2 separate regions of the Homo sapiens genome follow, and region 2 is linked to region 1. Evidence: fine-mapped expression QTL. Tissue or cell type: whole blood. Region 1 holds a variant in brackets; the other region holds the start of a gene. All regions are shown on one strand. Distances are between the middles of the regions.

Evidence for each region. PIP is the estimated chance that this variant, and not a neighbour inherited with it, causes the effect.
Region 2: ZBTB20-AS1 starts here. The variant in region 1 is fine-mapped to the expression of ZBTB20-AS1 in whole blood (TOPMed, PIP above 0.99).

What each region holds. Positions count from the first base shown.
Region 1 is chr3:114,377,642-114,380,493 of GRCh38, forward strand. ZBTB20 (zinc finger and BTB domain containing 20) reads right to left here. Exons shown (of 12, transcript NM_001348800.3): 10 at 2,576-2,763. All of the region lies in intron 7 of ZBTB20-AS1 (ZBTB20 antisense RNA 1), which reads left to right. Among named protein-coding and RNA genes, the nearest start is that of ZBTB20-AS1, 27 kb to the left of the region's middle. The variant C/T (reference allele first, on the strand shown) is at 1,160.
Region 2 is chr3:114,350,651-114,353,303 of GRCh38, forward strand. ZBTB20-AS1 (ZBTB20 antisense RNA 1) reads left to right here and starts at 1,161. Exons shown (of 9, transcript NR_038993.1): 1 at 1,161-1,306. ZBTB20 (zinc finger and BTB domain containing 20) reads right to left here. Exons shown (of 12, transcript NM_001348800.3): 11 at 1-1,228.

The DNA of each region.
Region 1 (2,852 bases):
ATGCCTGTTCAGAGCCAGGAATGCCGTCTTTGGGCTCAGAACAGAGAATTCCAATAAGAAATGCTCTCACAATGAGAGCAAATCCATAAACACCCCTCGGTACCCAAATGAGTTAACCACAAGCGAGTCTTCCATCTACCTGGGTGTCAATTTTCTCAGTTTTCTCATCTGTAAATTGGGAAGGATCATACTGACAGGATATGGGCATTAAATCATGACTAAGAATAATTTTGCTAAACACATGACAAATAAAAAGGTGCTATAAAAATTCAAGCACTTGTGAAAGCTTGGAACAACACACACTGGTGGAATGTTTCTGAAGTTAAAGAGACTAACAAGTCAAGGGCACTATTTTTAAATGCCCCAAATCTGTTAGTTCTAAATAGGAACTGAATATTTTACCTTAAAGAAATTAGGCTTTTAAATTAATCTATGGTAAGAATGACATTTGAAAGTAAAAAAAAAAAAATCCTCTTGAATGCAAGAAGAGCATCCAAAAATTTTAACAGCTTAAAATAAACCTTTTTCCTGTCTTCTCTCAAGCAATCTCCAAATGGACAGATTTCTGTGAATCTTTCCTAAAAACAATTTTCTTCTAAGTGTAGGCTCAAATCAGGACAAACTACAATCCAAATATATTTGGAGAAAAGTATAATCAATTTAAACAACAGGTTGGAACAGAGAAGACTTACACATCTTAATGGCAAAATCAAAGTGACTGTCTAAAAACAGCTGGAGATCAGGTTTCTCCTCCTGGTTTGTTTTTCCAACTGAGCTCACATCCACTGGCTTCCCCAGGGCCACCAAGGAGATGTATGGTGACACCATACTCACGCTGTTCCTGAAACTTACTTCATGCCAATGCTAAGGCCTGGCCAGAGGATGCTTATGATAAAGCACAATAAGTGAAGCCCAATGCTTTTTCTATTCACAAAACATTCATTTTTGCTGTAACAGAAGATTTCTAGCCTAAGGCAATTCTATGTAATCCATACCCATAAGGTGTGGCAGAAAGCTGGGTAATGAAGACCTGCATGTAGAAACTCCAGGCCCTTCACCACAGGAACGGGCTATTTTCCTGGTGGGAAGGGACAGTGTGCACATGCCTATGGGCACTGTGCCACTCTACTTTCCAATTCTTTCTGTCATTACTATTACA[C/T]TGAAGATTGCCAGGCAAGAAGGTCCAAGGATGTGACTATTAGGACGGTCCTCAGAACACAGTCCCTGCTTCTGCCCCCTGGTTTCTCTATAGAAGCCTCAACTTCGACTGTTCAAATCACATAGGCCACAGAGATTTGTCTCACGTTACTTCCCTTTTCATTTTCTAGTGACGGCTAGAATATGGTCTTAGCCCAACCTTAAATAGAACAAGCTCTCTTCACCCCAATCCTGCCGCCAGCTCATTTCCCTCTCTTTAGAGACTATCATGATGAAGCAAGTAGAGAATGGAATCTCCTGGACCATTGTCTCTTGCCTTCTTTGCAGAATTTTACATTTGTTCTGTCAGAAAAATAACAATAAAAGATTTAGAATCTCATTTCCTAATAATTTTTGTCTTTGTGGACAAAATTTTATTTTTGAAATAAAACTTTGCAGGTCTTATGTTACTCATTTTAAAGAAGAATATGCCAGTTATTTGCATGTTACCAGACATCCTTTATGGAGATCAGTTCAGAAGAGTTGTTGGGTATGTTAAGACTAAAAGGAATATTCTTTTGGATTCGACTCCAAAGTTATTTCATTCCTTTCCATTGTCAACACACATGTTTCTTTTTCTCTGAAGTATTGGGTTACATTTCAGAAAAAGAAAAAAATCTCCTAAACGTGATTTATCAACTTGCTTAAAATAGAATTAGAAGAAGTGACTCCCAGATTAGTGGGAAGATGGCAAAAATAAACAGCAAAGAAGTGATTTCAATAGCGACGATCTCATTAAGCTGCCCATTTCCAAATTTAGCCCTTAGGCAGTTTTTTTAATTAAAAAATATTTTTAACCTGGATTCTCATTGGCTGTGTGAAGTCTGGGTGGCTTCTGAATTCTTGGAAGCCATTCTCTTTTCTTCTGTAAATTTATGCTATCCTTTAACCACTTCAAAATAAATTAAAAACTGGAAAGACAGAAATTCAGCCAAGCTACATGAGACTCCAATAACTAATGCAAATCTGACTTGTGTTATGTAATTTCAAAATGGATGTTTCCTTGTGTCTAACTGGCCTTCTGAGGTCCACATTTGGTTGTTCAATTTAGTAATTGTGGAAGTGCCATTATCCAGATCAAGAATAAATGGATACCAGCAACAAAACTTCATTTTCTGGGTTAGTGTTATGAAAAGAACGTGTTTTATGTAATTAATCAGCCCTTTAAGGCCAAATGGCATGTCACCTGGCTTTTAAATACACTCTAGCTTTGCAAACTTATAGATATTGGCTGAATGAAAATGGTGGCACATTACTTTTGGCTGCTTTAGAAGACCAAATGCAAAGAGCTCGCTCTGAAAGTAGAAAAGCCAGAACCCAGGGTAGAAGCACTACTCCAAGCACTGCAAAGACACCATCACCTTAGTGGTGTACTCACAATCAGATGACCCGGTGTGAGCGTGAGAGTTTGTCAGTGAATGTGTTGAGTGGATGAGGGCTGGGTCTGGAGACAAAACAGCTTCAAAGTTCAGGCAGGGAAGGCCCGGCTTGGCGCTGGATCCACCCGGCTGAGTAATCTCATTCTCCTCAGATGCCTTCTGGTTTTCAGCTGTCTTGGGTTTCTTCCTGAAAATAAACAAAGGGCCCTTTGAAGGAACTGACTGCATATTTGGGAAAAGGCATTTTTAGAATCTGTTAAAGATAACTTGATTTTT
Region 2 (2,653 bases), 27 kb before region 1:
TAGAGCTGGGTACTTGGCAATGGCTGCCCGATGGACGTGTTGACCGAAGGCTGTTGTAGGACGCTCTTGTCGGAGCTGTTGCTGACAGTGATAACAGTGCTGTCCATCTCCACTTCATTGCTTCTCTCCGGAGAGGAAGCACCTGTTTCTAGCTGGTTTGTCTGCGGACCACCCTCAGCGGGGGCTTCTGCAGCCTGCTCGGGTTGGGTGGGTTCAGCCTGGCTGTCCCGCGCCGCCCCAGGCCCAAACTGCTGCTCCACCGAGTCAGGCTCGGTGCCTATGGAGGAGCTGACGCCCGAGTCGAAGCTTTCACCTTTGGGCTCACTCTCGGTGCCCTCGGCCTGGTCTGTGTCTTCCGTGCACTCCTCGGATTCGTTGCGTTCCAGGATCTGCACCCTTTGCTGCCCGTAGTAGTCGTAATCGTCCTCCATCTCCTGCTTGATGTGGATGTTGCCCACTAGGGTCTGGATGCGCACAGGCCGGGGCTGCTTGCGGCAGTGCGTGGTCTCGGGGGTGGTGGACAGGTAGCGCTCCATCTGCTGCGAGCGCTCATGGATGCGTGTGATCCAGCTGGGGTCTTCCATGTGGTGGTCGCGGGGCAGGCCGAGCGCAGTCTCGTGGTGGCTGACCACTGCGCCGCTGTAAAAAGAGCGCTCGCCGCTGCCATTCTGCATGGAGCACGCGTAGAGTGCCGAGTAGATCCTGTCCACGCTGTGCTGTGGGTGGCTCTGCAGGTAGCCCGACTCCGTGTCGCTGCTCTGGCCTGACGTGCCTGACTCGGGAGTGCCCCGCGGCGTGTCCTGGCCCGAGTCCTGGATCCCCGGGAACACATCGCCCACGTTCTGTGACACGATGCGCGTGCACTCGTCGATGACTGTTTTGATCTGCAGGATGCTGGCGGCCGTGAGGATCTGCAGAGCTTCCGACTGCGAGACCCGTAGCACGCCGCTGTACATGAAGTCAATGAGCTTTTGCACTGACTGCACTGACACCACCGACGGGATCTCGATGTCGCTGTAGCCAAGCAGCAGTTTGTCCTGGAAGAAGGGGCTGCCGGCTGCCAGCACGCAGCGGTGTGCGCGCAGCATGCTCCCGTGGATGCGCACCGTTACGTCACAGAAGTGGCCACGGTTGCGCTGCTCGTTGAGGGTCTCGAGCACGGAATTGCTGAAGTTGTGAAGGTTGATGCTGTGAATGCGCTCGGTCATCCCCTTGCAACTGATGTCACCTGCAGCATGTCAACGCAGACACAAAACAGGGCATGGGTCAGATCTAGCTGGTTGCATTCCTAACACCTAGGTTTCAGGTGAGTAATGCTCATGGCTCCTAGAAGCACTGCCCTTACATACGCAAGTGGGGAGATGGACAGGCTGCGGCATACAAGCTGTAGGTACGATGACCTGAGGGAAAAGGACCTTGAATTTTGCTCCAATTCCGGCCTTTAGTGCCGCAGCCATTTTGGGTATCCATATTAACTCCCCAGAGCTTCGGCTGAGGTAGAGTGGCCTAATAACCAGATGATTTGTTTGCCTGCTATTCCTACAGCTTCAGCAAAGAACTGAAAGGCAAATGGAAGACTTGTTCTTATGGAACACTAAACCTCCACTTTATTTTTATTTATGTATTTATTTACTTTGCCTTCACTTTAGACAGGCCTAAGCCCAGATTCTTTGGGAAAGTTTACATTTCCCCCAACTTATCAAAGTCCCTTATTTTATTCATACACAGTGACCATATTCATAGTTAACAAATAAACCCCCTTCCTATTAAGTCATATGGCATATTATCAAAACCCACACCATGTATGCAAAAATTATTGGAAAATTCAACCCAGACTAAGATATCTACCAAACAGTCATGATCATGCTTTCCGGATGATGGATGGGCTACAGAAAGCAATCTGCTAGCTAAAGGGGCACTCCATGGCTGCTTTCTGTATCTACTCATTCTTCTTGTCATCTCTGACAACCTGTTTGAGCACTTTCTAGGGTGGTTGCATGTGATATGGAAGGTTTTCTGAATTTTCTGAGGCTTAATGAAGGAGGAATGTTAAAAAGGTCAGAGATGGCAGTTCTGACCCAGGAGACTACAGTACATTGGTGATCATATTTATTATGCAAACAGGGCACTTTCAAGAGTGAAAGAGAGCATTGTTAATAATTAGGCCAGGATAGCAGGAGTAAGCCAGAAGTGGGATATATGATCTCCTTGGGTAATAGGGTGCTTTATGTACTTGCCACAGGGAAGTATTAAACAGCTCCCAGGAGGAAGGCAACAGCTATGTGGAGGCTGCGGATAGCCTGACCCAGCGCCACCCTATAACGTAGGCTGTTATGGCAAGGGATACTATTGATAAGATTTGGATTCAGAATGAGAAAGAAAACAGGTGGCTACAGCAGTAGATCTTAGGGCTTTTCTATTTTTCTAGCTCATCTCTCAGATGGCTCTAGAGAATCCCCCTCCAAATAATTCTTCAATCAGATTCCCCATTCTTGCCTTTACAACTGAACAATCAGCTTGGGAAAGTGAAATAAGTGGGCTTTCAAAACCAAATGGCCCAAGCACTGATTGTTGGCCTGGACCCAAATCTCTCTGTCTTGTGAGAAGCCACCTGAGAGGTAACAGCCTGCAGATAGGAAGAAGGCCTACCTCC